Linked DNA regions of Homo sapiens: region 1 is linked to region 2. The links come from fine-mapping of genetic effects on gene expression. A gene starts in region 2. The other region holds a variant in brackets. All regions are shown on one strand. Distances are between the middles of the regions.

Region 1 (15,046 bases), 45 kb before region 2:
AATTTTGCTCTTGACACCCAGGCTGGAATGCAACGGCACGACCTTGGCTCACTGCAACCTCTGTCTCCCGGTTTCAAGCAATTCTCCTGCCTCAGTCTCCTGAGTACTGAGATTACAGGCACCCACCACCACGTTCAGCTAATTTTTATATTTTTAGTAGAGATGGGGTTTCACCATGTTGGCCAGGCTGGTCTCGAACTCCTGATCTCAAATGAGATCTCTGGACCTCATCATCCCAGAGATTTTCAATGGCTGTGTATTTCATGACTTCTGCCACCTTCACTGAGGCAGTCCAGGTTGGAGTGCAGTGGAGCAATCTCCACTCACTGCAAGCTCCGCCTCCTGGGTTCGCGCCATTCTCCTGCCTCAGCCTCCTGAGTAGCTGGGACTACAGGAGCCCACCACCATGCCCGGCTAATTTTTTGTATTTTTAGTACAGACAGGGTTTCATGATGTTAGCCAGGATGGTCTCGATCTCCTGACCTCGTGATCTGCCCACCTCGGCCTCCCAAAGTGCTGGGATTACAGGCGTGAGCCACCACACCCGGCCTGCTTTTTTTTTTTTTTTTTTAAAGAGACAAGAATCTTGCTATGTTGCCCAGGCCGGTCTCAAACTCCTGGGCTCAAGCGATCCTCCCAGCTCGATCTCCCAAACATTTAAATGTTTTTAATACATTAAACAAGAATTGCATGTCTTGAGTATTGTTATAAAATTCAAATAATTATTTGATCTATAGAATAAAATATACTACCATTAGGTGACAGGTTTAGATTAACCCTTTGATTCCGAATCCCATGCACTTTCTTCCCACCTCTATCTACTTCCTGGGAGAGACTCTAAGCTTCTACTATGAGTTTGGCATCAATTGGGATTTTAATCCTGTTCCTGAGCCCCTCTGTGTGGAACACTTGCCAAGACAGAAACTGCAGGAACCCCAGAGTCCTTGCTCCTCAAACACTTTAGGATTTCAAGGAGGAGGAGTCTCCCCATTGATGCTTCATCCTTATACGTCTCCACATTCCCCAAGCCTTTTTATTACAGGAAGCCTCAGAATTAACCCTCCCCATCGTAAACACAAGGACTGCCAGGCTGGGCCTCTTTCTACAGTAAGCCCCTCACTTAGTTCTGGGAGGACTCCGAGAAACGAGGAGACTCTAGACAAACTGGGGCAATTTCCCTCCAGCTTTCTCAACTGAGGTCTACTATTCCACTTCAGATAATGTGGCCGAAAATAGGTAATTCCATTTCCATGTGCATAATCTCTCCCGTTACTTACACCAATCATGGCTTCTGGGTGGTGGAGCAACACACACTATAGAATGAAGGAGAAACAAGGGGCTTCTTCAGGGACCCAGCCTCAGGGTGGAGACGTGGCTTCCTTCCTAGGAGGAGGACACAGTAGGGTGTGCATTGCAAGGTGGAGAAAGATAAACTCAGCCACGGGGGTTGCAGGGCGATCCCCACTCGGCCTGGTAGGACCCACTAATTGAAATAGGTTCTTGTTGCTTCTGAACTCCTTTTCAAGGAAACAAGTCAAGGTGTTTGTTGAAGTAAGCATAAAATATCACATGAGGCAAAATCATGGCTTCAGAATCCCTTTGATGATGAATACTGTGTGACACAGTTTGTTTTAATAGAATCTGCTTGCTCTGTGGGTGTCAAAATTTTTCTCCACAAAACAAAAATAAGTGAGACTGCTCAATTTAGAAAAAATATCACTTTCCCCAGAAGGAACATGTTTCTCATACTAAGATTCTCCAAGAACCTTCACTGTCTAGAACAGTTTCCCAGTGGTGCCTGAAGAGACATCTGCTGTGAGGGATTAAATGTTCAAATGAGTGACACCAAGACCAAGAGCTCTAGGAGTTCCGAGACAGCCACCCATGGACTCCATGGGAGAAGGCAGGGCTCAGGGCCCTGGGCTGGACCTGAAGAGGGAGGAGTACAGAGGGGCTGAGGGAAGTCACAAGAGTGTCCAGGCCATGTGTGGATGGGAGGGGGAGGATGGATTCCAGGGTTTTAAAGTTCAGAAGAGTCAGCACGCCATCATCACCTGAATCCAGCCACAGCCATTTGCACAGTGATTTCTGTGCTCCATCTAAGCAAGAGTGAATCCTAGCCATGGCTGGTCACTGCCAGGGCAAGAACTGAGGCCTCCTCATTCCTTGTCATCCCAGAGCTCAGCCCTGGGCAGCCCAACTTAGTCCTCCCAGAGGTTCTGATAAGCACATCGCTGGGCTGAGATCTAGCTCAGGCATGGAAGGGTTTCATCCTCACCCTGTCTAGCCTGTTGGGCCCCACACTAATCCAGGTGCTTTCTCGGGCTCTGATCCAGGGTCAGAGGAGATGAGCGTGGGCTCCTGAAGACAGTAAGTTGTCCCCATCCCCTCTGTCCCTGCTGCTCTGATCCTGTCTGGACAGGGTTTGCTGGTCCGTGCTTTTCACCTCTGTGTACAAGTGCAGCCCCTGCTGGGAACCCTCGACCTGGATGCTGTCCTCCCCGTTGCAGCATCCCCAGGCCTCACAGAGGGCCTGGCCCCTGTACCTGTGCCCAGGAAGCTCCCATAAATGGATGATTGGATCAGAGCAGACACCTACTCTGCAAGGAAACACCAGGGTAGAAGAATCATGTCTTCTTCATCTTTATATCTCTGAAGCTGCGCTCTTCTGTGTGGCAGTCACTACCGGGAGGTGCTCCTTATTACTAACTTAATTAATCCATTCAATTAATTAGAGTGCAAGAAAACACTGTGTTCAACAGCCACATTTCATGTGTCCCTAGGAGTTATTTGCCACTGACCATAGCACTCAACAGCACAGAGAGCATTTCCCTCTGCACAGAACACTTGGGTAGCTGTTCTGAGCCCAGCCCAGGTCTGTTGAATGAGCTCATCTACCTCACAATGTTTCCATCACGGTTAGAATTCCAGGTAGGTAAGTCTGTAGCGAGAGCTGTAACATTGCAGCAAAAATGGGGAAGTGAGAGGAGGAAAGGAGACCTTCTCACTTGATGGTTTACAATTGTCAGCAACGCCTCATTGATGGTCTCGAACTCCATAGAGCCCAGGGAGGGTAAGAGAGCCCAGAGGACAGAGAAGCATGATCTTGTGTCATCTAATGTGACCTCAATGGAGTAGGAGGGATGGGTGAGTCACTCTCTGGAATACCCTTCTTGCTGATGTTTGTGGCCCCTGGACACCATGTGGTGCACGCAGCAGTGAGGATGAAGACGGGAGGTAGGGGACTCCACTCCAGGTAGGACCCAATGGGAGAGGCTGCTGGGGAGCACGAGGGTTACACTTGAGGCTATGAAGCCTTGGAAGGGAGCTGTGAAATCAGAAATAAATGTGTAAAATCTGATTTGTTCTTTTTGTATTTTAACGGCATACAGAGATGGTGCCTCTGGGCTCTGAGTGTGCTGTGTTTGCCATCATAGTATTTAAAGATGGTCTTTCTCAAAGCACCAGATCTTTCCTGCCTTTGCCACAGCAAACTTCAGAGCCTTTGATTATGTTTCACCTCTTGGGAATGATACACAAAAGATTTTGGTTTGACTTTTGGGTGTTGACCTCCAGGGGAAGGAATCTGGTGAGACACAACTCTCTCATAGGCAGATACCTGATCTTGGAGGCAAAGTCCATCTAGTGAGTGCGGGGTGCTGGGTGAGAAGTCGGCCCTCTCCCTCTGTACTTTCTTTTCTTTTTTTTTTTTTGAGATGGAGTCTCTCTCTGTTGCCCAGACTGGAGTGCAATGGCACGATCTCGGCTCACTACAACCTCCGCCTCCTGGGTTCAAGCGATACTCCTGCCTCAGCCTCCTGAGTAGCTAGGATTACAGGCGCATGCCACCATGCCTGGCTAATTTTTTGTATTTTTAGTACAGACGGGGTTTCATTGTGTTAGCCAGGATGGTCTGGATCTGACCTCGTGATCCGCCTGCCTCGGCCTCCAAAAATGCTGGGATAATAGGCGTGAGCCACCGCACCCGGCCCCTCCCTCTGTACTTTCAGGACTTGGAGCAGAACCTTCATGTTCTGTCCTCGTAACTGGGGGACCAGTTAAAGGGCAGCCAGGTTTCTGCTGGGGCATGGGCCAGCTGTGCCCGCCGGTCTCAGGTGTAACAGGCTAAGTCGCCCACAGTGGTGTAGACAGACCCATTGTGAGATGGATGCCTTAAACTTCTTGACCTGTGTTATCCTCCCAGCAGCCACGTGAGCTTGCACACCACTGTGCTCTCCATTGAGTAGTCGTAGAGGCTGAGACCTGAAGAGGCCAAGCCGCTTGTCTGAGCTCGGGGAGGGCAGAGCTGGAGTCTGAACTCAGATCCATGTGGATCTGCACTCTCATGTGGGAGCCACGGGCCCCAGGGCTATTTACGTGTAGTTAGAAAATGAGCAGTTTGGCCGGGTGCAGTGGCTCATGCCTGTAATCCCAACTCTTTGGGAGGCTGAGGCAGGCGGATCACGAGGTCAGATCAAGACCATCCTGGCTGACACAGTGAAACCCCGTCTCTACTAAAAATACAAAAAAAAAAAAATTGCCGGGCATGGTGGCAGGCACCTGTAGTCCCAGCTACTCAGGAGGCTGAGGCAGGAGAATGGCGTGAACCCTGAAGGCGGAGCTTGCAGTGAGCCGAGATCATAGCACTGCACTCCAGCCTGGGCGACAGAACAAGACTCCGTTGTCTCGAAAAAAGAAAAAGAAAAGAAAAGAAAAGAAATTGAGCAGTTCAGTTCCTGAGATGCATAAGCCTCCAGTCCAGGGTTCACTGGCTGCACGGCGAGTGCTGCCACCTGTGGGACAGGGCAGGAGCAGAGCTACACCGGTCCTTGGCCGGCGCTGGTGCAGGCCCCAGGTCTGACTGTGCTGCTTGCCTCTAGTTTTGCTATGTGATTTTTAAAGAGCACGATGCCTTTTTTTAAAGTTTCATTTTCATGTTTGAGTCTCCTTTTGCAGAAACTTCAGGCCTGTAGAAAATCTGCCAGCGCAGTCCAAAAAGAGGTTTCCCTCACTCACCTGAAAGCCGGTTGCCAGCCTCATGTCCCATCACCCTGATGATTTTCAAGTGCTTTACGACCATTAGTGACGTTGTCCTGCATGGCCACCGTGCAGTTATGGTGCTAGGAAACGAACACTGATGCCGACCATCTTCAGACCTCATTCGAGTTTGCTCATTTGTCTCGGTTTTTTTTTTTTTTTAAATTGAGACAGAGTCTTACTCTGTCGCCCAGGCTGGAGTGCAGTGGCACAATCTTGGCTCACTGCAACCTCCACCTCCCGGGTTCAAGCGATTCTTCTGCCCTCAGCCTCCCGAGTAGCTGGGACTACAGGCGCGCGCCACCATACACAGCTAATTTTTTTTTGTATTTTTAGTAAAGACGGGGTTTCACTGTGTTAGTCAGGATGGTCTCAATCTCCTGACCTCGTGATCTGCCCGCCTGGGCCTCCCAAAGTGCTGGGATTAAAGGCATGAGCCACCACATCTGGCCCAGCCCTTTTTTTTTTTTTTAGACAGTCTCCCTCTGTCACTAGGCTGGAGTGCAGTGGTGCAGTCTCGGCTCACTTCAACCTCTGCCTCCAGGGTTCAAGTAAATTTCCTGCCTCAGCCTCCCGAGTAGCTAGGACTACAGGTGTGCACCACCACGCCCAACTACTTTTTGTATTTTTAGTACACATGGGGTTTCACCATGTTGGCCAGGATGGTCTCGATCTCTTGACCTCATGATCTGCCCACCTCAGCCTCCCAAAGTGCTGGGATTACAGGCATGAGCCACCGTGCCCAGCCATTTGTCCCAGTTTTATCCCTTTCAGCAAAAAGAAAAACCCCAGCCCTGAGTCACCTGCCGCATGTGTCCTGTTTCTCTTAGTCTCTGTCAGCCCGGGACAGCCTCCTGGGCTTTGACTTTGGACACCGTGACACTTGTGAAGAGGACAGTCTGGTTATCTGTAGAGCAGCTCTCATTTTGGGTTTATCTGCTGTTCCCTCATGGCCAGGCTCTGAGCACTGCGTCTTTGGCAGGAATATCACCGAAGTGAGACTCCATTCTTCCACTTGCTTCTGATCTGGGGAAGTCACCTTCTCACCCCTTTGTAATTATAAGTCCTTTGTTGGGGAGTTTACCATCTTCTGGTTTTTTTTTTTTTTTTTTTTTTTTTGAGATGGAGTCTCACTCTGTCACCAGGCTGGAGTGCAGTGGCGCAATCTCGGCTCACTGCAACCTCTGCCTCCCGGGTTCAAGCAATTCTCCTGCCTCAGTCTCCTGAGTACTGAGATTACAGGCACCCACCACGTTCAGCTAATTTTTGTATTTTTAGTAGAGATGGGGTTTCACCATGTTGGCCAGGATGGTCTCGATCTCCTAACCTCGTGATCCGCCCACAATTACGCCATTAAAGTCCAGCTCTGGGCCGTAGGGGATGATGGGGACGTGGTGGTTCCTCCATCACAACCTTCTCCAGAACTCAGCTCACGGTGACTCCAGGCAGACGTCCTCACGTCCTGATGCCTTTGAGAGCTGAGTCGCCCTCCTGGAGGCAGAGCTTTCTGGACCAGCTCTGCAGTTTCTGGTGTTTTGTAAAACTATGACCACGAGCCGGAGAGTCAGAGACCTGGATTCCAGTCCTGGCCTTGTCACTTCCTGCCTGTGGCCTTAGCCAGGGAACGTTACCCACCTGAGCCTCAGCCTCCTGCCCTGGGAAACAGAGCTGGAGGGGATCCCATGCCCAGCTCGGCAGATTGATCCGCTCAGGGCCCCTCTCTGGGCCTGGCGCATGTTGGATGTTGAGGGGATGCTGGTTCCCTGTCCCCTTCTGACAGCCCCGTCCCCTGCCATGTCAGGCCCCCCAAGCTTCCAGGCAGCTCTGCACCTGAGCCGAATGATAACAGAAATCCCAGACACCAAGGCAGGTTGGAGCTGGATTGTCCTGGATTTGTGGTCAATTTGACATGTGACACCTAGAGTAACCAGGCGAGGAAATAAATTACGGCGTGGCCCGGCACCGGCAGATGCTGGGGAGATGGAAGCATGGCGGCAGATTGCTCTTGTGCAGGGGAACAGTGGGCTCGTTTGTAAATGCAGGCTGAAGTGGGAGGCTGCGTGGGAAGGATCCCTGAAGTCAGCCTGCCCAGCAGCCCACACTCCATGCTACACCACGTCCCCGACATCTCCCCAAGCTGGGATCTGGGGAGAGTGAGACGTGGTGCCGTCCGGTCCCCAGGGCTAAGGGACCAGTCATGGAGAATCGTTCCCCAGAGCTGGGTGGTAGGCCAGGGAGGTGGGACAGGAGCAGGCAGCCTCAGGGAGGCGAGGGCGCTGCTGGTCCGGCCTCGGCTGGGCTGTGTTCTTGGGCCTGTTGCCTCATCTCTCAGGCCTCATTGTTCCTGTGTGGACTCAGCGGCTGGTCTTGCATGTCAGTGTTTCCATCACGTATGCAGGTGGATAAAATGGAGTTTCCCAGGCTTCTTGCAGACACAGCCTGGGCCAGGGGCCAAGCATCTGCATTTTTCACAAGGACATGGGCAGATCTGATGTAGGAAGCTGCAGGGACATGTCTCTAGGTAGCCCCAGCCCTGACTAACGGGACACCCCTTATTTCTTCAGTGTTGGCCCCAGTGGGAGGGGCTGATAGGGAATGCTGTGGTAGATTCTGACAGACCTTGTGTCTGGGTTTGATCAACAAACTTTAACAACGCGTTCCTTTTCCAGAATCATCACTTTCTTGGAGTCTATGTCCATCCCTCCTCAGAGCACAGACCCCCTGAAGGTTCAGACTAGTTCTACTGTGAACACTATAGATCTATTATCACTTCAGAGCATAGACCTGCTGTGTGTTAAGGACAGAGCTGCTAGGATTCTGAGTGTAGACCCACTGAGGAACAGGAACAAGTTTGAAGGAGCCTTGTTCAGATAGAATGGGATGAGTCCAGGTTTGGTCCTCGGGAGGTCAGCTCAGGACTCAGGGCTGAAGGCGGCATCAGGCATCTGTTCCTCAGCAACAGGTCCCTCTCTGTGGAGGAGGCCAGCGCCATAATTGTGGGGCCCCTAGGTGGGTGGTGTGGGGCCTCCAGGTAAGTGGTGTGGGGCCTGCAGGTGGGTGGTGTGGGGCCTACAGGTGGGTGGAGTGGGGCTTCCCATGTGGATGCTGAGGGCCCCTGTGCTGAGGGTGGTGGTCCCATCCTCCTCCACCCTGCTGCCCCTGAGGCCTGAGTGCTCAGGCTCCCCCTGCCTGTTTTAGGGTTCACCATTCACCCTGGTGATAGGTGGGTGCTGGAGACCGGCCGCCTGTATGAAATCACCATTGAAGTTTTTGACAAGTTCAGCAACAAGGTCTACGTATCTGACGTCAGTGCCTGTTCAGGTCCTGGCTGGGGGGATGAGGTGGGTCGTTGTCTGACGCAGCTGCTGGAAAGCAGCCCCCAAAGCAACAGGAGCCCCCATGCAGGATGACTGAGGAAGGGTCCTGTTTCTAGTGGCGCTCCTGGGTCTGTGGGAGACACTGCCAAGGCATCCTGGGGCATTTCCAGAGCCTGTGAGCCTGCACACCCGCCCCACCGCAGAGTCCCTGTAGGGCTGGAGCCCTGTAGTCCCTGTAGGGCTGCCACAGCGGCAGGGCTTCAGGAGAGGGGGATACGGAGGAGGTCTCTGCCCGCCACTCTCCCACCCCCTTTTCCCCAAGCTGGGGACCTCAGAGGATTCATTCTTCTCCCGCCCTGCCGAGAGTCAGGGAGCACGTCCTGGCCTTCTCCCTGCTGAGCCCCAGAAATACCTGGAACCCTGCGTGACAGAGGCCGAGCTCAGCACGCTTTCTGGTTCTGGAAAGGGGTGTCAGACAGATGGGGAAATGTGCAGGAGCCTTGGCCACCTCTCTGTCCCCTGTGAGAAATTCCAGGCTCATCAGTGAGTGCCTCCAGGCCCTTCCAGGTGGTGTTGGAGGTTTGTTTGTTTTTTGAGATGGAGTCTTGCTCTGTTGCCCAGGCTGGAGTGCAGTGGAGTGATCTCGGCTCACTGCTACCTCCACCTTCTGGGTTCACGCTATTCTCCTACCTCAGCCTCCCCGAGCAGCTGGGACTACAGGCGCACACCACCACGCCCGGCTAATTTTTTTTATTTTTAGTAGAGACGGGGTTTCACCGTGTTAGCCAGGATGGTCTCGATCTCCTGACCTCGTGATCCACCTGCCTCGGCCTCCCAAAGTGCTGGGATTACACGCATGAGCCACCGCGCCTGGCCCTGTGTTGGAGGTTTTAGAAAGAGGTGAGGTTCCTCTCGGTGTCCTTGAAGAAGCCATTGCTTTGCTTGTGTTATCAAACAAGGGCTGGGATGGTCACCATTTGCAGTTAGCTGTAGGGGACGTGATGTCCTTTTTTTGGTATTTACTGGTTCCTTGTTGAGACCTTGGTAGGCTCCAAGCTGCCCCAGGTGCCACACGGGGAGATGAAACAGGAGTGCAGGTCATCGGGCCATGCAGGGAGGGTGCCCTGGGTGGGGACAAAGGCCATAGTGGTTAGAGCTCTGTTCCAGGGCCTGACCTGCCCGTCTGCTGCTAGTGGAGGCTGCTGAACACCAGGGGGCCCCTTGGCCTGGCCCGGCTGCTGGTTTCAGTTCTGTAGCTTCTTGCCCAAACTCTGACTTTCTGGAGTCACCCCAGAAGCACCTCTCACCTGTCCTGCCTCGCCTTCCAGAACTTCTGAATTGAAACTGTGCTTCCTGCTGAGTTCTTTGAGGTGCTCTCGGCCTCCCAGAATGGGTCATACCATCACGTCAGGGCACTAAAGAGGGGACAGATGGCCATTGACGCGGCCCTCACCTCTGTGGTGGACCAGGCAAGTTGGTGTCTCCCCTGCGTCGTGCCTTGGCCTATGAAGCCCTCCTCTGTAGGCAGAAATGTCAGCCCAGGAGGGCCATGGGTCGAGTTGGGCCACCAGTGTCCCTTTGCCTGTTTGGGCTACTTACATCCTGGGTTCTTTTTTCCTTTGTCTTTAAGAAGCCCATCAGCCTTAGGGAGCAGAGCTTTGCTGATCGGAAAATCGGCCTGGGTGTTCCCATTTTCCTACCCTGCGCAGAAGGCCTCCCGGCCTGGAAGGGGCCGCAGGCTGTAACAGGAAGAAATGCCCATGCACCGACAGTGACTCCTGCCAGAGTCGGCCTCCTCATCTCTGGGAGCTGGGTGGGCTGCTTTAGCTCTCAAGCCTCAGTTTCCCCATCTGTAAAGTAGGGGGTACACCACGTCCATCCTGCCGGGGTGCCCTGAGGATTCAGTCAGGCAGCACTTCCAGGAGTGGCTGTAGCAAAGCCACGGAAAGCCATCCCTGTGGAGAACGAGAGGGTGGCAGGGTGTCTGGAAACTTCCTCTCCACTCTCCCACAAAATCCACCTTTGTGGCCTGATCCCCAGGGAGGGGTGGGGGTCCAGTGACTGGGAAAGACTGCTGATGACATGGTTGTCATAGTGATGTGTGGCACCCTCACCCCTTGTAGGATAGAGGGGTCCACACACTATGGGTGCCTGTGTGGAACCAGCAGGAGGTGGAAATTCACATCCCCATCACCCTGTATCCCAACATCTTGACGTTTCCATGGCAACCAAAGACAAGTACTTATCAGTACACAATAAAGCTACATGAGACCCCCACTTCTGGGTGCATTCCTCTGGTGTTTCCATAGGATTGTGGCTTTTCGTCCATTCTATTACTTTTTTTTTTTTTTTTGAGACAGAGTCTTGTTCTGTCACCCAGGCTGGAGTGCAATGGCACAATCTCGGCTCACTGCAACCTCTGCCTACTGGGTTCAGGTGATTCTCCTGCCTCAGCCTCTCAAGTAGCTGGGACTACAGGTGTACACCACCATGTCCAGCTAATTTTTGCATTTTTAGTAGAGACAGGGTTTCACATGTTGGCCAGGCTGGTCTCGAACTCTTGACCTCAAGTGATCCTCCCACCATGGCCTCTCGAAGTGCTGGCATGAGCCACCACGCCCGGCCTCATTCTGTTACTTTTAACGTTACTCTCTAGTGGCCTACTTTAAATCACAGTCTTTATGATTTCTGTTATTTCCTGAGGTTTCCATCATAGCAATGCATTTTTTGTAATCAGGAAAAAGCCCAACAAAAACCAATAGTGAAAAAATAGAGAAAAGAAAATACAATAAATTCTGGAATATTCTGGAATACAGATTTGAATTTCATTAACATTTCTTTTTCTAAAAGTTATGTTTTGAAAGCTATATATATCTGTATATAGATATAGATATATAGATATATGCTCTTAGAGAAAACATTCAAATTCAAGGCATAAGTATCTCCAACCCCATCACATGGGACGTGTCACTGCTTTGATCTTCCTGCCTGCACGTGGCATTAGCCAGCAGGACTCGCGTTAGACAGGGCTCGAGTCCTCGTGGTCAGTGCAGGGCACATCAGTCCTGCTGTCCCATGGAGTGGTGACAGGTGTCCTTTCTATGCACTGGCACTGGCTCTCTGCTCAGATGTGTCACCGTCCTGGCCCCTTGGGTTCTAGGGTTGTTTCCTCTGGTCTGGGAGCAGAGGTGCGGTCGCTGACCTCC[C/T]AGCAGATGATGAGGAGTGGGCAGGGGTGTGTGCTGGGAGCTTGTGTCTGGTCAGGGAGGCAGCGCCCTGCAGCTGGCTCGGTGGCCAGGGGTTCTGCCCACTGCAGCCTGAGCTTTGCGAGGTGCCACCAGATTCTGGGGCCTCTGTCATGGGCATGTGTGTTTGTGTGTGTCAGTCTCGAGGTCCCCAGAACATGAGGGCAGAAACAAGACAGGACAGAGAGGGCGAGGGCAGGGGGAGCCTCCAGCCAGACCCTGGCTGACACCACGTTTTTCCCTGCAGTTGGCATCGACCTTGTGTGTGAGTGAGTAAGTGGCCACAGGTGTTTTTGAGGATGTGAGAATGGGTGTGTTTGAATGTGTCTATAGGTATGTGTGTGAATGTGTAAGAAAGTGGGTATGTGTAGAGCTGTGTGGGTATGTGAGGATGTGTGTGAAGGTATAGGTGCACGTGAGTATGAATGGCTAGGTGAGTGTGTGTTGGCTTGTGTGTAAGCACCTATGTTTGAGGGTGTGTCCGTGGTCAAGTGTGAGCTTGGGTGAGTGCATGTGAACTGGTGAGTGGGAATGGTGAGTGGGTGAATGTGAGGGTAAATGTGTCGAGTGTGTGTGAATGGGTGAGCCTGTGTGAATGTGAGCGAGTATGTATAAGTGCGAGTGGCTGTGTAAATCAGTGAGCATATGTGTGTGAGGGAAGTGAGTGGGAGCATGTGAATGCGTGTGTGAACCTGTGGGTGTGAAGGGTATGTGATGGTGAGCTTATGAGTGTGAAGGGCACATGCCTGTGTGAACATGTGTGTGTGAGCACGTGAATGGGTGGATGATGTGTCTGAGTAGGTGTATGTGTACGAATCTGTGAGTGTGAATGGGTTAGTGTGTGGGTGTGAGGGGTAAACTGTGTGACCATTTTGTGAGCATGTGAATGAGAGGATGACAGGTGTGAGTAGGTGAATGTGTGTGAACCTGTGGGTGTGAATGGTATGTGTGAGGATAAATGTGTGGGTATGAGTGTGTGTGCATATATGTGTGAATGGATGCGTAGGTGTGTGTATGAATGTGAACTATGTGAATGGTGTGTGAGCATGTGAGTAGGAGGGTAAATTGTGTGTGAGTAGGTGATGTGTACGTGTGTCAACTGTAAGTGTAAATGGTGTGAGTGTGTGTGAGCATGACTGAGTAGGTATCAGTGTGAGTGTGAAGTGTGGGTGTGAATGGTGAGCATGTGTGAGGGTAAATATGTGTGAGTAGGTGTCTGTGGGTGTGAACTGTGGCTGTGAATGGTGAGCGTGTGTGAAGGTAAATCTGAGTGTGAGTGAGTAGGTGTCTGTGTGTGTGAACTGTAGGTGTGAATGGTGAGTGTGTGTCTGGAAGCCCAGAATCAGACTGTCGAGCTGGATCATTCAGACTCCATACATCCAGCCCCTTTATACAAACTGGGAGACTGAGGCTGGGCAGTGGTGGTGGGGAAGGGATCACACCCAGCGTTTGAAGGACAGCCCGGGTCAGAGCCCAGCCAGGAGCTCCTGACCCCCATCCTCCCATCCGCTGCTGCTGCAGGTGTGTCTGTGTCGGGAGCGCACTGTGTCCACCCCGCCTTGGTACAGCTAGGAGCATGACCTCCCCCACCCTGCACTTAGCTCACAGCCCACAACTCAACGGACATACTAGATGGCAGGGGCTGTGAGCCAGGCAGGGAGGGTGCTCTGGTAGGAGCCCTAGGGAGGGGTCTAGGGAGGCCGGCCAGGGAAGGAGCCAGCCATGGGGCCACCCCAGCAAGTCCCAGGTCCTGAGAACCCTCTGGGTATGTGTGGGCAGCAAAAAAGGCTATGAGGCTGAGTGCTCAGCTGGGGAGCTGCGGTCAGAGCCTTGGTAGGGGCCAGTGGCAAAGGCATTGGGAGACTTTACCCTACGTCTGGTGAGAAGCCATTAGAGACCTTCTGGCAGAGCCAGGACCCACCACTCAGACTTCTGTGTTGGGGCTGTGCGGACAGAACAGGAGGCTGGGTGGAAAGGGTAGAGAGGGTGGGGGCTCGGCAGCTGTGGGACCAGTTCTGGGGTAGATGGGGAGGAAGCCATGGGTTGGAAGAGAGTAGGGAAATCAGGGAGCAGTCCCTGTCTCTGGGCAGAATCACTGGCAAAAGTTTGGGAGGAGCAGGGTCTGTGTTGGCCACACCCAGGCTCCAGGTGAGGGTGGCAAGAGGAGCGGGATGCTGGGGTCTGCACGGGAGAGAGGCTGACCTCGGGCTAGGGAAATGAACTGCATCATCAGGGTACTGGTGGTGTTTGCAGCCCCAGGACTGAACAATCCCCTAGATAAGGAGGAGAGAGAGAGCCCAGCAGCCACAGAGCCCCTTCCAGATTCCGACCCCAGAAACCCCACTGCTCACAAGCCAGAGCCTCCTCCAGACTGGCCAGGCCCAGGGAAGGGCGCGACTCAGGTGCTGGGCACATGGTCTTGCCCTGGTCTCTGCTAGGCCCTGGCCACTTCCAGAAGCTCCTTTTCTCATATTTGGCCATTTTTTTTGGTTGAGGACCTGGGACCTTCCCCACCTACAGTTTCCTTGGTGGGGTAATGCAGAAGGGATGACCAGCAGTGTGGGGGTAAGAGGCACCCTGAAGGCTGCAAGACCCCAGCCTGAGTCCTGGTCTCCTGGCTAACCCCCTCCTCAAGCCTCAGTTGCCTCTACCATATCATGAGGGCAAGTGGAAGATCCCACTTAGTCTATGCCAGCTCCCAAAGTCTAGAATTAGTCTTCTGAGCCCTGCGCCACAGGCAGCCTCCCTCTTGACAAAAGCCCCGCTCCCCTCACAGGCTGAGGAGCCGGCCCCCAGCCCGTGTGCCCACCAAGGCTGGTGTGGGGTCTGAGCTGCATCCTCCGTGTCCTCCCCCCGGGACTGGACAGCACTGCCCTGCCCACAGGGCTCCAGCCCTGTGTTGACTGCTTCTCCCCTGCAGTCCCAGCCAGGTCCCCCGGGGCACCGTGGCTGCGAGCCTGGCCGCTCTCCTCAGTGCCCGGACTGCGGCTCTACTTTGTGAGTGGCTGTACTGGCTGCGGTGCCCAGCCCTCCTCTCTCGAATCTCCTCTCCTCAGATGTCATGAAGGAGGCCACACCTGGGTCCCGCCTTCCTCCGTGACCCTGTCCCTTTGTCTCCACTAGAGCATCCCCTTCCTCCAGCACAGATGACCCAGGAGTGTCCCTGGCCCAGCCTGTGGCTGCAGCCAGCTCCAGAGTGGCATGTCCAGCATGCCACTCCTCCCCCCTGCGGTGGCTGCACAAAAGGCCAAGCGATGGCCCTGTTGCCCATGGCTGGGACTCCTTCAGGGGTATCGCTTCTGCTCACCCTTTAACTTTTCAAAAGACCCAAGCTCAAGCCCCTTGTATTAGTCCATTCTCACAAAGCTATAAAGAACTACCTGAGACTGGGTAATTTACAAAGATAAGAGGTTTAATTGGCTCACGGTTCCGCAGCTGTACAGGAAGCAC
Region 2 (15,937 bases):
AATGCCACCTCTACCTCCTGGCTCAAGCCATCCTCCCACCTCAGCCTCCCAAGTAGCTGGGACTATAGACACACGCCCCCCCATACCCAGCTAATTTTTGTATTGTTTATAGAGATGGGGTTTCGCTATGTTGCCCAGGCTGGTCTTGAACTCCTGGGCTCAAGTGATTTGCCCACCTTAGCCTCCCAAAGTGTTGGGATTGTGGGTGTGAGCCACCACAACCAGCCAAAAACAATTTAATGACTTATCATGATGTAGGTAACTTGAGTTCTTTAGCAATCATATTTACTAGAATGTAAGACATTCTGCTTGAATAAGGTAGAGGGATGCAAAGAGGTTTAGTTTCTTTAAACTTTTTTGTTTTTTAGAGACAGTTTCGCTCTGTTGCCCAGGCTGGAGTGCAGTGGCACAATCATAGCTCACTGCAACGTTGAATTCCTGGGCTCAGGTGATCCTCCTGCTTCAGCCTCCCAAGTAGCTGGGACTACAGGTGCACACCATCATGTCCAGCTAATTTTGTAGAGATGAGGTTTTACTATGTTCCTCAGGCAGGTCTCGAATTTTTTTATTTTTATTTTTTTTTGAGACGGAGTCTCGCTCTGTTGCCCAAGCTGGAGTGCAGTGGCACGATCTTGGCTCATTGCAACCTCTGCCTCCTGGGTTTAAGCGATTCTCCTACCTCAGCCTCCCGAGTAGCCGGGACTACAGGCTTCCACCACCACGCCAGCTAATTTTTGTATTTTTACTAAAGACGGGGTTTCACCATTCTGGCCAGGCTGGTGTTGAACTCCTGACCTTGTGATCCACCCGCCTCAGCCTCCCAAAGTGCTGTGATTACAGGCATGAGCCCCTGTGCCTGGCCTGGTCTCGAACTCTTAGGCTCAAGTGATTTTCCTGCCTCGGTCTCTCAAAGCACTGGAGGATGCTATTTTTAGGAAAACCTATATACAAGGTTGGCCCTCAACAACTCAGAACTAGATTTTGAGAGTATTCCCACTTTTCCCCAACTCATAAGGGTGGTTTATTCCGCCTAGTCTGTGTAAACAATAAAGTTTATGCCAACACCTGTTTTCCTTCTGGGAGTCTGAAATTTTGGTACCTGCTAGGTATCTGGTAGAGTGCCTACATGATCAGCCTCCAATAAAAACCTCGGACCCTGAGTCTCTAATGGGTTTCTCTGGGCATAAACGTTGTACATACTAACCTGGGCAACATGGCAAACTCCAGTTTCTACCAAAAAAAAAAAAAATTATTCTGGTGTGGTGGCATGCACCTGTAGTTCCAGCTACTTAGAAGGCAGAGGTAGGAGGACCACTTGAGCCTGGGAAGTTGAGGCTGCTAGTGAGCTGTGACTGAGCCACTGCACTCCAACCTGGACCACGGAGCAGGACCTTCTCTCAAAAAAAACAAAACAAAACAAAACAAAAAAACCCCACAAAAAAAAACAAAAACACTGTACATATACATTACTACATTTTTCGTTGCTGGAGAAAGTAACATGCTTGCAGTATCCTCCCACAGGAAGGAAAACATAAGGAAACCTGTGCATGACTTTTTCCAGATTTCTACTAGTGTCTTTTTCCTTTGCTGATTCTATTCTGCGTCCTTTTACTAATAAACCTTAGACACACTATGCCTTATATGCTTAGCCCTTCTAATGAATCTCTAAATATGGGGGCAGTCTTGGGGACTCCCAACGCATGGTTGTCAAACTTTTTTTAAGTAATGGGCCCCTTGATAATTTGATGAAATCTACAGATTAAGCAGCACATACACATTATTCTGCATGGCACAGTACACTCTGGGTTGGGAGAGACCAGTGAGCAGAGAGTGCATTTTGGGGTGTTACTACAATGGTTCAGGGGTCTGGTGATGGCAGTGAGAAAAACAGTGACATCCAAAAGATTTAAAAAAAAATAAAAAGAAATTGTAGTACAAATGGATTTGGATGAAAAAAAGCAAGGATGATTAAGTTTTCAAGCCCAGAAGAGTGAAATAATGATGGTACTACTGAACAGAGAAGAAAAAATGCTGATGAAATGTTTTATGAAGATCATATGTTGAATTTCTGATACTAGTGAGAAGTCTGTGGCAGTTTTCAAAAAATGGTTGCAAAATCTGACACTCCTCCCATTGAGAATTGGGAATCTATGTTCGTTCCCCTTGAATCTGGACGGGCTTGTAACCAACAGAATGTGGCATGAGTGATACTATATGATTTATCTCATAGTTCTGAAAGCTGGGATTAAGGTGCCAGCAGATTTGGTGTCTGGTGAGGGCCCACTTTCTGGTTCACAGATGGTGCCTTCTCACTATGTTGTCACATGGTATCTCTGGGGTGTCTTTTATAAGGACACTAATCCCAGTCATGAGGGCTTTGATTCCCAAAGGTCCTATCTCCTAATACCATCATCTTGGGGGTTAGGATTTCAACATATGCATTTTTCAAGGACACAAACATTCAAACCATAGCAGCTGTGGTCTAATAAGACTTTATACAAACAGGCAGTAGGCCAGATTTGGTCTGAGGACCGTAGTTTGCCAATCCCTGGTATAGAGGAAAGATCAAGGTCTTTGTAAGGAGATCCTGGTTCAAAAATCCTTTCTCTGAGCCAGGCATGGTGGCTCACGCCTGTAATCCCAGCACTTTGGGAGGCTGAGGCGAGCGGATCACCTCAGGTCAGGAGTTTGAGACCAGCCTGGCCAACGTGGCAAAACCCCATCTTTCCTAAAAATACAAAAATTAGCTGGGTGTGGTGGCGTGTGCCTGTAACCCCAGTTACTCGGGAGGCTGAGGCATGAGAATTGCTTGAGCTCGGGAGGTGCAGGTTGCATTGAACTGAGATTGTGCCACTGCACTCTATGACTCTGATGGAAAAAAAAAAAAATCCTGGGCCGGGCGCGGTGGCTCATGCCTGTAATCCTAGCACTTTGGGAGGCAGGTGGCTCATGAGGTCAGGAGATCGAGACCATCCTGGCTAACACGGTGAAACCCCGTCTCTACTAAAAATACAAAAAAAATTAGCCGGGCGTGGTGGCGAGTGCCTGTAGTCCCAGCTACTCAGAAGGCTGAGGCAGGAGAATGGCGTGAACCCGGGAGGAAGAGCTTGCAGTGAGCCGAGTTTGTGCCACTGCACTGCAGCCTGGGCAACAGAGCAAGACTCCATCTCAAAAAAAAAAAAAATCCTTTCTCTGCTACTTATGAGGTTGGACTAGTCTCAACTTCTTGGGCCTTCAACTTTCCTTATCCAAAAATTAGAACAAACAATAATTACCCTGTGGGATAATTTTCAAGAATGAAAGATAATATAGTTAAAATGTGTGGCATGGAGTAGGCACTCAAATTGTAGTATAGTATTTTTCTAAGGTAAGGATTAAAAACAAATCATAAAATTGTCTATAAAAAGATGACTATTAATGCCATGAAGGTAAAGTTTCTTAGAGAGTATATCATGTACAGGATTTAACCTGAGGGTACAAAAAATTTTGTTAAAAGAAGAAATTAGGGTAAAAGCAGAGTTCCAAGTAGAAGTACCTACTAAGATAAAAGTAGAACGAAGAAAGTCAGGAGAGAATGGAATCTGAAGAAAGGAATCATCAGTAGTCGCAGTCTCAGGAGAAGGGCTTCCTTTTGTTTAAAAGCTAATCCCTCCATAGTGCTGCTGATAAAATCCAGTCCTGCTTCTTCCAGAATCCTGCCTGCTGTATCCATTAATTCTCTTTTTCTTGAGATGGAGTCTCGCTCTGTTGCCCAGGCTGGAGTGCAGTGGCACGATCTCAGCTCAATGCAACCTCTGCCTCCCAGGTTCAAGCGATTCTCCTGCCTCCGCCTCCCAAGTAGCTGGGATTATAGGCATGTGCCACTACGCCCAGCTAATTTTGTATTTTTAGTAGAGACAGGGTTTCACTATGTTGGTTACGCTGGTCTCGAACTCCTGACCTCAAGTGATCCGCCTGCCTCAGCCTCCCAGCCTCCCAAAGTGCTGGGACTACAGGTGTGAGCCACTGCGCCCGGCCAATTCTCTTTTCATATATATACACACAAACAGTTGATTCCCTTTATTTGCAGTAGTTAGATTTCATAAAGTTGCTTTGAGTACTGAACTGCTGCTCTTAGGGAAATGCAAGGTTATGTTTCTAACAGCATCTGGTGACGACACTTTCATCAACTGATCAATATATGACCTTGTTTTATGTGTGTTTCTGTTTAAAGACATCTAATTTAAACTTACTCTTAATTCATTTACACTAAATTCAAGACCAAGAGCACTATAACTCATGCCTGACTAAAGCTTATCCAATGTATATATCTTCTTTTTAAGACATATCACAGCCTTCTTTAGCTTGGGAATACCAGCCAGCACTTTAGTGCTATGCTTGGGATCATTTTAAACAGTGAAATCACACATGGCACTAAACTGGCTGCAAAAAAGATACTTGTTTATAACGTAAGAGATGAAACAAGAAGGCAGAGCTCTGCCTCGATCAACCTCAGCTGGAAACATCAAGGTACTCAAATTTGTCAGCTCTCTGTATGTGCACCAATGATTGCAAAAGCAAAGTGAGTATGAATTTAGGGGTTACAAATAAATTTTAGTGAGTAGGTGAATTTGGAAATATGGAATCTAAGAATAATGAGGACTGTTTGTGTGTGTTTGTGAGAAAGAACAGTTGAAAACAGAGATTTCATAAATCCTCTTTCTCTTCCAGAATCAAATTTGCCTTCTGGCAGCTCAAGCCTATAATCCTGGCACTCTGGTAGGCCAAGTGGGGAGGATCCCTTGAGCTCAAGGTTGATTTTTCTTTTTTGAGACAGAGTTTCGCTCTTGTTGCCCAGGCTGGAGTGCAATGGCGCGATCTTGGCTCACTGCAACCTCCGCCTCCCACGTTCAAGCGATTCTCCTGCCTCAGCCTCCCAGGTAGCTGGGATTACAGGCATGCACCACCACACCCGACTAATTTTGTATTTTTAGTAGAGACAGGGTTTCACCATGTTGGTCAGGCTGGTCTACAACTCCCGACTGCAAGCGATCCACCTGCCTCAGCCTCCCAAAGTAATGAGATTACAGGTGTGAGCCTCTGCACCTGGCCTGAGCTCAAGAGTCTTGAGACCAGTTTGAGCAACACAGTGAGAACTTCCCCCTCAAAATGTCAAAAGGAAAAGCCTGTGATCCCAGCTGCTGGGGAGGTTGAGGCAGCAGGATCGCTTGAGCCTGGGAGGTCAAGGTTGTAGTGAGCCATGATTGCGCCACTGCACTCCAGCCTGGGCAACACAGCAAGTCCCTGTCTCCAAAAAAAAAAAAAAGTCTTCCAAGCAGAAGGACCCCCAGCTCAGTGCATAAATGAGAATGAGACAACATTACGCAATGGTCAACTAAATGATCTTTCATCAGAAATTTGCAAGACAACAATACTGAAAAAATCTGTGGTTCTCAGTACGGGACAATTCTGACACACCCCTCCCCACCATCCAGAGACTTCTGGCAGTATCTGGAGATACCTTTGGTTGCTCTGATCTGGGGGATGCTATTGTGGAGGATGCTACTGACATCTAGCTGGTAGAGGATGTTGCTAAACGCTCTACAACGCCCAGAATAGCTCCCTATGACAAAAAATTATCCTGGCCAAAACTGTCAACAGTGTCAAGGTTGAGAATTCTGCTCTCACAAATTCCACTGATCAGCGCTGAGAGTGTACCCTTGACAACTGTAAACCAAATCCAAATGTGAGAATGACGAATAGAAAGTAGTTGAAAAGCCAAAATACTAAGACCATTGCTCAATATTAGTCATCTTTCCTCTACCCTTTTGGACTTCTGAACAGAACACCTGGTAGCACTGGGGTGGATAAATGAAACAGGAAGTAATTTGCAAATCTGTGGTTTCAAATGAAAATGTTGCTATCTATATACATATGCAGGCTGTTAATGATTTGAATGAACTGCTAAAATGGTTCTAATTTTGCTTTATAATTTATAGGTCTGAGAAAAATGAGATATCAAATATTATCAAAATTAAGAAACCATAGCAATCTTAATAAAACTTGTTAGAGATGTGAAATCAAATACTATATCAGCAAATTCATACCACTGGCCCAAATGAGGGCTGTATTTGCTAGTGGCTCCACCTTCCCCATTCCTGGTTCCAGGATGCATCCACTGGAGTGGGGACGGTGGTCTGGATCTCAGTTCTAGTTCTGTCCCTCACTGATTAGGTAACCTAGGACAAGTCATAATCTATGTATACTTCTATCTTTACATCTGTTAGACAAATTTTTCTTCCAGCTAACTTTCTATAATTCTAAGGAGGTCATATAAATGACTAAGGCTTTTTTTTTTTTTTTTTGTTAAAAACAGGGTCTCATTTGCTCAGGCTGGTGTCCTGAAATCCTGGCCTGAAGCAATTCTCTGGCCTCAGCCTCCCCCAAAGTGCTAGAATTACAGGCGTGAGCCACCAGGCCTGGCCAGGCTCATACACTTAATCCTGCTCTCTATTCTCACTCTAAGTTATGCTTTCCTTTGAAATATGTTTTATGCTCTCTTTTCCCCTTCAAGGTTCTCCAGAATATTTTATTTTGATTCCCCTCTCATTTAAAACAAAAAGTTTCAATAGGGAAGTATGCATCCTCTAAAAATGACACAAAAATAACTATGTCATATAAATGGCTTCATTCAACCAAGAACATTATTTGATTTTTTTTTTTTTTTTTTTTTTGAGACTGAGTCTTGCTCTGTCACCCAGGCTGGAGTGCAGTGGCACATTCTCGACTCACTGCAACCTCCACATTTTTTTTTTTTATAGTACAGACAGAGTTTCATCATGTTGGCCAGACTGATCTCAAACTCGTGACCTCAAGAGATCCCACTGCCCCGCCTCAGCCTCCCAAAGTGCTGAGATTACAGGCGTGAGCCACCGTGCCCAGCCATTATTTGTTATCTTTATTTCTTTTTGAGATGGAGTCTCACTCTGTTGCCCAGGCCAGAGTACAGTGGCACAATCTTGGCTCACCCCAACCTTCGCCTCCCGGGTTCAAGCGATTCTCCTGCCTCAGCCTCCCAAGTAGCTGAGATTACAGGCGCCCGCCATCACACCCAGCTAATTTTTGTATTTGCAGTAGAGACGGGGTTTCACCATGTTGGCCAGGCTGGTCTCGAACTCCTGACCTCAGGTGGTCCAGCCGTCTTGGCCTCCCAAAGTGCTAGGATTACAGGTGTGAGCCACCATGCCCAGCCTGTTATCTTTATTTCAAAATGATGTGATTCCCTATAATGCAGAAATGAGTCCTTTTTGACTATCATATTATCACAAAAGTTTAAAGAGTATGTACCAGAGGTATAATCAACTTTATAAAGTGATTTCAGCATTATGAATCAAATACAGTCAAAATTCAGGAAGGAAACAATCACAATTTTTTTTTTTTGAGATGGAGTCTCGCTCTGCCGCCAGGCTGGAGTGCAGTGGTGCAATCTCAGCTCACTGCAACCTCCACCTCCCAGGTTCAAGTGATTCTCCTGCCTCAGCCTCCCAAGTAACTGGGACTACAGGTGCGTGCCACCATACTCAGCTAATTTTTGTATTTTTAGTAGAGATAGGGTTTCACCATGTTGGCCAGGATGGTCTCGATCTCTTGACCTCGTGATCCGCCCGCCTCCACCTCCCAAAGTGCTAGGATTACAGGCGTGGGCCACCGTGCCCAGCCAACAATCACGATTTTTAAAAACATGTCAAGGTCATTTAAAATATTTAAGACATGGAGAAACTATTACTTTCTAGAACGAAGCATTTTTATTACACACACATACAAAGACACACACACTTTCAGGAGATAAGGCAAAAAACTAAAATATGAATGTAAGTGACTGGTAATTCCAACACTACAGGGATAAATACTATAAACACAATGAATGCAATTAAACTTCAGATAACCAAACCAAATACGTGTTTCTAGCCTTAGTAAAAGACAAACACAAAAAGATTGAAAACACAAGCAGAAAGAATAAAACTTTTCAATGCTCAAGAAACATCAGAAGTGTTTTAAATTAACTGATCTTAAGCCTGTCCTAGGCCTAGAGAAGTCTGATTAAGCTGGCCTGGTAAAGGGCATAGAAATATTCTTAAATTTTTTATTTTTTTAAATTTTTTCTTTAGGCAGGGTCTTGATCTGTCACCCAGGTGGGAGTGCAGTGGTACAACCATGGCTCATGAAGCCTCGACCTCCCCAGCTCAAGTGATCTTCCCACCTCATTTTTTTATTTTTTGTAGAGATGGGGTCTCCCTATGTTGCCCAGGCTGGTCTCCAACTCCTAGGCTCAAGTGATCCTCCCACCTCGGCTTCCCAAAGTGCTGGGGTTACAGGCATGAGCCATGGCACCTGGCCTTAAATTTTTTTATTATATTTTTAAGATACTCCAATGACCCTGATGATCAGTGAAAGCTGCTATTTTAAAACACAAAGCTCATATAAATTTGGCATATATTAAGGCTAGTATGCCATGTATAGCAAAGGCATTTAAATTGAGCCTGAAAAATACGTCTTTATCAGTGTTAGAAGCCACTGATAAAACTTCTTTCATGAGGCCAAGAGAGGTTCTCAACTGGAAGTCAGAATATATCAGTAAAGGCTGGTTTTTAATGTCATCCCAAGAGGCTGAGCACACACCAAACCAAATAGGAGATGACCATCACGAGGCTGGGCGAGGGGCTAGCATAGTGCAATGCTGGTTACCTTCTCAAAGTGCAGTCGAGACAGAAGCACTGGGCTGTTGGATTGAGGACTCTTGTTGTAAGAGGGGCAGTACTTATCAGGGTCCCTCCACTCCGGGAGCCGCTGCTGGCCCCGCCGATCCTGGTAGGCGCAAGCTCTCGTGAGAACATCTCTAGGTAAGTGACAGGATGTTCGCCCACACATTCTTCAACACCGCCCCTCGCAACCTTTAAATTACAAAACGTAAGGAAAAGGCTTACGTATCTCAAATATTAGGTCTTATTCCTTGAGTCCCCGCCTTCTCTTTCCGTTCCCACAGGGCCGTGCCCCTCCGTGACCACCGTCTAAAGTCTTCCCCAAAAAGTCCCACAAAGACAAGGATGTGCCCGTTTGCTTCGCTCCCTGAGCCCACTGCCCAGCTCCGTGCAGGGCACTGAGGCAAGTCCCGAGAGGAGCTCTGCAAATGCCTGCCTGAGCGCAGGAAGAGCCGCAGCGGAGGGGGCTTCACAGTCCAGCGAAGCAGGGCAAGCGCAGCTAGCTGGGGTCGCCTCCTCCGGGTGACTTGGTGCCCCCAACTCCCCGTCCTTCCCCCCAGTCCCCGCTGGGGTCAGCGACCCACGCCGGCCAGCAACCGGTCACCTCGAGGGCGGCCACTGGACGGCCCGGGGCCGGGGTGCAGAATCCCCGCCTCCCGCCCGCTAGTCCGCAGCGTCCCCGGGCCCGACCTGCGAACCTGTGGGCCGCGGATCCCGCTCCGGACTCTGCTCCCCGGAGCGGGGGCCGGTGCTCGGGGAGCAGGTGGCCCCCAGCCACCGGCCGCGATCCCTCGCCCCTCCCCGCGTCGCCTCCGCTCCGCTCCGGCCCTCAGACTCCGCCGCCCCGCGTCGCCTCACTTCGGCCCAGGCCGCCCTCTCCGCGTCGCCTCGCGTCCGCTCGGGCCTCTGCTCCCCTCTGTCAGCTCGCGTCGCTTCCTTTCCCCTCCCCTCCCCTCGCCATACCCCGACCGCCCGCGTCGCCTCCCCTCCCCTCACCTCGCCCCGGCAGCGCGCGTCACCTCCCTCGACTCTCCTCACCCCCGCTCCGCTCCGCTTTGGCCACCCGCGTCACCGCCCCTCACGTCAGCCCCGCCTCAGCCCGCGCTCCCGGCGCCAGGCCCCGCCCCCAAGGGCCCTTGGTTCCCGCGGTGCCCTCGGGCCCCGGAGGCGGCGTCTTCTCCCCTCCGGTTTGGGATGAATTTTCTCCCGTTTCCCCAGGAGACAGTGACTGCCTTGGGAGACATATCGATCCCAAGCTTCTCGGGACTCCACTTTCCTCCATATTGGCCGTTCCCTGGCGGGGTTAACCTTCCTCCCCGCCCCCAGCGTGTTTCAGGGCTGGCAGGGAAGGTTCCCGCCGCGCTGAGTCTAGGGCACAGGGTCATGGAAGGCGGGAAACCAGGAAACTCCACTCCTTACTTCACAGTCCTGCCAGCTGCCTCACAGTGCGAGGCAAAAATGGAGGAACACTGAAGAAATGAAAGTCAGAAGAACTTCCAGGAATCGCGCACTTCGCCCTCAAACATTGGTGGGCACTAGAATAAGCCTTTCCTGCCCCAGCCCCTCAGCTGAATCTCTAAGGGTGAGGCCCAGATTTTTAAAACAGCCCTTTCGGGTGTACTTTGGCCTCAAAGTTGGTAAAATAGCCTGGCTTGAGTTTAAAAGCCTGCTCCCCTTGGGACCTAAACCGGAGATTCTTCATCTGCAACCAACAGAGAATGCTCTAGAGGGCTGTTCGCCTATGCTGATTCGCTGAACTGAACAGGGAGCAGAAACCCCAGGGCACACTCCATGTAAGACCAGATGCTGGAACGATCAGACACAGGACCCAAGCCCTTTGGAGCCTCCATTTATCGACTATCAAAGGAGGATGCGTTGTGAAGAAGCACGAACGGGAGGGAGTGTGAACTCTGCCTGTTAGCTGATTCACTCAACCACCCTCTACCGCTCCCACCCCTGGGCTTGGTGCTGGGACAGCGATGACGGGGAGAGGGTCCTGCCTCACAGGACTACAACAGCCAAAGGGCTGTGGGTGCAAGGGGGACAGGGCAGGTGTTCTGCCTCTTTAGGGGAGGCCTTGAAGGGGAAGGTGGAGCCCTGAAGCATGAGTCTGCAGAAGTAGCAATCATTCAATAAATACATGCTGATTTATTACAGGGATAAGATGGTTTCTTGGGGGATAGATTCAAGAGGAGTTGAGAATGTTTTATTCATTTACAATGTCCCTTTCCTGGAAGGGTGGACAGCAAGATTTAGGACAAGCTAAAATCATCCCCTATTTAAAAAAAAAAAAAAAAAAAGTCACCAGCAAGTAGTCCCGGGTGGGAGGTGGGAGCAGAATAAAAAAAAATCTGCAATGATTCCTAATTGTTTTTCAATACAGAAGCTTGGGAAGGGGTTTCTGCCAGTTTCATGAGGAAGGCACAACTTCCAGGTAGTGTTGGGGAAGGGTATGAGGTCCTATGCAGGCTGGCCTCTTATCCCACAGATGCCAAGATGATGTCTACTGGCAGCTCCTCCAAACTTCTGGCTGTCACCTGCATTGTCACTGTGTCCAAAAGCAGCAGCCGGGAGCGCACCAGGATGTCATGACCACCCCGGAACACACCTAGAAGGGAAGAGAGAAGTACAGATATATACAGCAGAAGGGACTGTACAGGGCAGGCTAAGGATGGCATTTGCAGCAACCCATGAAGGCAGCTCTGGTGTAGTGAAACGGGCAGGAGAGCTGGGCTGAAATCCCTGAGTGAGGGATTTCACTGTGAAAGTCACTGTCTCTCAGCCAGGCGCGGTGGCTCACGCTTGTAATTCCAGCACTTTGGGAGGCTGAGGTGGGCAGATCATGAGGTCAGGAATTCGAGACCAGCCTGGCCAACACAGTGAAACCCCATCTCTACTAAAAATACGAAAATTAGCTGGGCATGGTGGTGGACGCCTGTAATCCCAGCTACTCGGGAGGCTGAAGCAGGAGAATCGCTTGAACCCGGGAGGCGGAGGTTGCAGCGAGCAGAGATTGTGCCACTGCATGCCAGCCTGGGTGACAGAGCTAGACTCCGTCTCAAAAAAAAAAAAAAAAAAGAAAGTCACTGTCTCTCAGGACTTCAGTATCCTCAACTACAAAGTGGCAGGGATGATAATACCATATTTCAGGCTTCTGCTAAGTTCAAATGAACTGATGGACATAAAAGGCTTATATCTCATGTCACAGAGGCTCTTGCACGTTGACTGAATCTGAGAGCACAAATGAAGGGGACAGCCCCACCACGAGAAAACCACAGGGCAGGTGTCTGCAAGACCCAGGGGACTAGGTTGTTTCAATGTGGCTACAAACTGTCAGCTGTAGGCAGGGTACTGAAGCAGAGCCTCCTTTCAACCCTGTTTATAAACACTCAGCCAAAAAAAATCATCCCATTTCCTTTTGTTAACTGTTTTAGGTATGATAATTGTATTGTCCTTTAAAAAAGGGAAGGGGTCATTCTCTCTTAGAGAAACATACAGATACAGGATTTACATATAAAATGCTATTTCTGGAGTTTGCTAGTAAATAATCTGGGAAGGAGAATGAGTGTGGGTACACTCAGCCAACCCTGTAGAAAATAAGACAAAGGATATGAAGACAATGATCAGAAAAGGAAATACAAATGCCTCAACATTTAAGAAGATACTTAACTTCATTGAAAATACAAAAACTACACTAAGATATCATTGTCCACACAGACTGGAAAAGATCATAAAGTGTGGTAACATATTATGTTGTCCACAGTGTAGGAAGAAAGGTATACAATTCTATGGAAGGCAACTTGGAGTTATTTATCAAGATGAGAAACACAAATCACTTTGAACTGGTGATGCCTTGGAAAATTTATCCTACAGATATTCTCAGTGTACACATGCAAAGTAAACTGTGTGTGTGTGTGTGTGTGTGTGTGTACACGATTATTTACTGTAACATCTGTAATAGCAAGAGATTGAAATCAAACTAAATGTTCATCAGTAGTGGCTGTTCCATAGAATATGTGGTGCATCCACACAATGGAATACTAAGCAACTATAAAAAAAATGAGGATTCAGTTTGGGATGAAAAAAGTTCTGGAGATGGATGGTGGTCATAGTTTTACAATAGTGTGAATGTACTTAATGCCGCTGAACCATACACTTGAAAATGGTCGAAATGGTGAATTTTATGTATATTTTACCACAATTAAAAGAAAAAGAATGAGGAAGCTCTACATATTGACGGGGAAGATCTCTAAGATGCAATGTAAAGTGAAAAGCAAATCGGAGGACAATATATATACCATTTGTACATAAACATTTGAGTTAAAAAAAGGAAATGCGTTCCTATTAGCTTTTATAGCCATAAAATAACCGCAAGGTTATACAAGTATTGTTTGTAATAGTAACACTGGTCGCTTCTCGGAAGGGAATCTGAATGGCTGGCAGCCAAGGTAGGGAGGAAACATTTCGCTGCAGATTATTTTATACTTTGTGAATTTTAAATGCTGTGAATTTTGACTCCCCATATTTACAGTGGAGTCCTTAGCCCAGGATCCAGTGGCATCCAGGCTGTAAGCTATCCAGGCCCTCCCCATCTAGAAATGCCACTTACCAGCCAGGAGCAACGTGTGGGTGTTCTTGTTATCCGGCACTTTGTCTGACCTCTCACAAGGGTGCATTCCCAAGAACTTCACAATATTACCCACAGCCTCTGTAATGAGAAATCCCAATATTGTTAAGCCATCTTATCTGCCCTTTGTGCCACCACCACTCCCCCATGTTCTGAAGGGCTTTTAATGAAGTGGCATTTGACATATGTGCTCCAGACATGGCCCTGGATCCTTGGAGAGAAAAGGGATGAGCACTTCAATAGTAGCCAAAGATCTTGAACAGTAATTAGGCCAGAGATGGCATTCCCAGGATTTTACCTTCAAGTGTCTTGATGGTAGACAAGGTGAACGTTTCCTCCTTCTCAAATTCATCCCCTACCTCATCCCAGGCTGCTTCGAAGTTCAGTTTCATGACCTTTTGAATGTGATCAGCTACAGTAACTTCCAGATCTTCCAGCTGGAGAGATGGAGGTAGAAATCAGGCACCCATCTACACACCTACGGGCCTCTGCTCTGAACTCATCCACACATCCCTTCCTGCAACTCTTTCCACAGGTGCTTGCTCGGCACTGAGGACTGTGCTAGACTCTGGGGACATAGAGCAACTTGACCAGGTACCTATCCTTGAGGTGCCCAAAGGCAAATGGTATCCCTTCAACAGAAAACGCCCTAATCCCAAGTACCAATCTACTAATTCAGCCTAGAGCCGCCTGCTGTGAGATCACATCTCTTCTAAGCCTGCCTAGTGTCAGTGCTTCCAGGACCTGGCATGCAGGGAATTACATAGCATTCTCAGAGGTCTGCTTCCTATGCCTGTCCCTCCTAGGGGATGATGAGCTCTTCAGGACCAGCAGCTGTTTCTAGTTCAGCAGAAACTAGCAGAAACCTCCTACCCCAGCTGTGTCCTCTGGATTTGACAGATCCTGAATCTCTATCTCCATTTCAGCTGTGTCTTCCCTGAACTTGACACATAATACTCCCACTGAGTCTACATGAAGGTTCCCCATTCATTCTCCCATCAGATTTTCACTGAGGCCCTACTCCTGTGGATGTTTACAGTGTATATAAATACAACTTAGACCCAGCTCTCTCTCTCTTTTTTTTTTTTCTTCATCTCTGGATGGGCTCAAACAGACCCAGCTCTCTCAAGGAGCTCACTTGGTCTTAGAGCAGCTCCTGCCTCGGGGTCATTTCCAGCTCAAGGAAGGTCCATCCATCCTCAACTGTGACTCTAGGATGACACAATGGCGAATGTCAGTTGTATTCCACTGTGACTGTCCCTCTAGTCAGGAGGAGTTCTAACAGTCCCCATCCACAGGCTGAGCATAATGGTCTGCACTCAGATGGCCCTGAGCCACTGCCCCAAAGTCAGACCTCAGAAGGATCCTGTACTTAGTTCCACCGAGCTAAGATAGGAGAATTTAGAAGGGCTATTCCAGTGCATGAAAGGACTGCCCAGCACAGCAAACAGGTCAAATTTATCCAGAAAGCATTTGACAAGAGGAATCAAAATGTCTTAAAATCATGCTTACCCTTTGACCCAACTATTCTCCTTCTAGGAATCTATCCTAAAGAAATAATCTAAAATGCAGATAAAAATTTGTATCTAAAGGGATATTTAATGCAGCAATATAAATAGTGAAAATATGGAAACCCAAATGCCCAACATTAAAGGAGTGAAAAGTCAATCAAGTTTTGACATAGTATATAACAGTATTTTAAATCCACTAAAAAAATTGTGTTTATGAAGTATTTGTAATGATACTGGAAAATACACTATGGTTTTAAAATAGCAAGGTCTACACTGTAAGAATGATTTCAATTATACCACTTCCCCCCAAAAATAACTCTAAGGATTATGAGTAATGTTTTCCTGTTGTTCATACTTTGTTTTGAATTTTGTTTTTGTATTTCCCAAGTTTTCTTTTTACACATGAACATGTATTTCCATAAGTTTAAAAAGTTATTTTAGGCCGGGCGCGGTGGCTCACGCCTGTAATCCCAACACTTTGGGAGGCCAAGGTAGGTGGATCACCTGAGGTGAGGAGATCGCGACCAGCCTAGCCAACATGGTGAAACCCTATCTCTACCAAAAATACAAAAAATTTGGCAGGCATGGTGGTGGGCGCCTGTAATCCCAGCTACTTGGGAGGCTGAGGCAAGAGAATCGCTTGGACCAGGGAGACAGAGGTTGCAGTGAGCCGAGATCGCGCCACTGCACTCCAGCCTGGGTAACAAAAGAGAAACTTCATCTCAAAAAATAAAAATAAAAAAATAAAATTTTAAAGAGCTAAAAAGCCAAAAACAGCTCCAGTCTCACTGTCAGTTCCTGAAGGGAGTTGCTTTGCAGCCTCAGCACAAAACTGAGCTTCCTGACACCAGGATCTTACCACATACTCATCCTCATAGCCTTCGTCATCAGTCTCCCCAGTGGTGGGATCACAGTCCTTGACAGTGAACTTCATCATGCAGCTGAATGTGCAGGCCACTGTGGGGAAGAGAGGCTGGGTAGTTAGGATGTCCCCAGCCTGCAGGGGATGGGCTCCTCCTGCAGGGGACAAGCAGGCAGGGGTCACAGCCTGCTTTCTAGGC

Evidence for each region. PIP is the estimated chance that this variant, and not a neighbour inherited with it, causes the effect.
Region 1: its variant is fine-mapped to the expression of HMCES in monocytes (TOPMed, PIP 0.98).

The regions. Positions count from the first base shown.
Region 1 is chr3:129,318,613-129,333,658 of GRCh38, reverse strand. It overlaps H1-10-AS1 (H1-10 antisense RNA 1), which reads right to left. Exons shown (of 5, transcript NR_026991.1): 3 at 15,022-15,046; 4 at 10,055-10,309; 5 at 9,090-9,478. It also overlaps the pseudogene NUP210P3. Among named protein-coding and RNA genes, the nearest start is that of H1-10, 9.8 kb to the right of the region's middle. RefSeq lists an enhancer at 4,896-4,955. The variant C/T (reference allele first, on the strand shown) is at 11,561.
Region 2 is chr3:129,272,703-129,288,639 of GRCh38, reverse strand. HMCES (5-hydroxymethylcytosine binding, ES cell specific) reads right to left here and starts at 9,770. Exons shown (of 7, transcript NM_020187.3): 1 at 9,735-9,770; 2 at 8,725-8,930. The coding sequence starts at 8,907. It overlaps COPG1 (coat protein complex I subunit gamma 1), which reads right to left. Exons shown (of 24, transcript NM_016128.4): 21 at 15,736-15,833; 22 at 13,664-13,802; 23 at 13,348-13,446; 24 at 10,867-11,346. The coding sequence ends at 11,216. RefSeq lists an enhancer at 8,616-8,745 and silencers at 9,166-9,555, 9,566-9,915.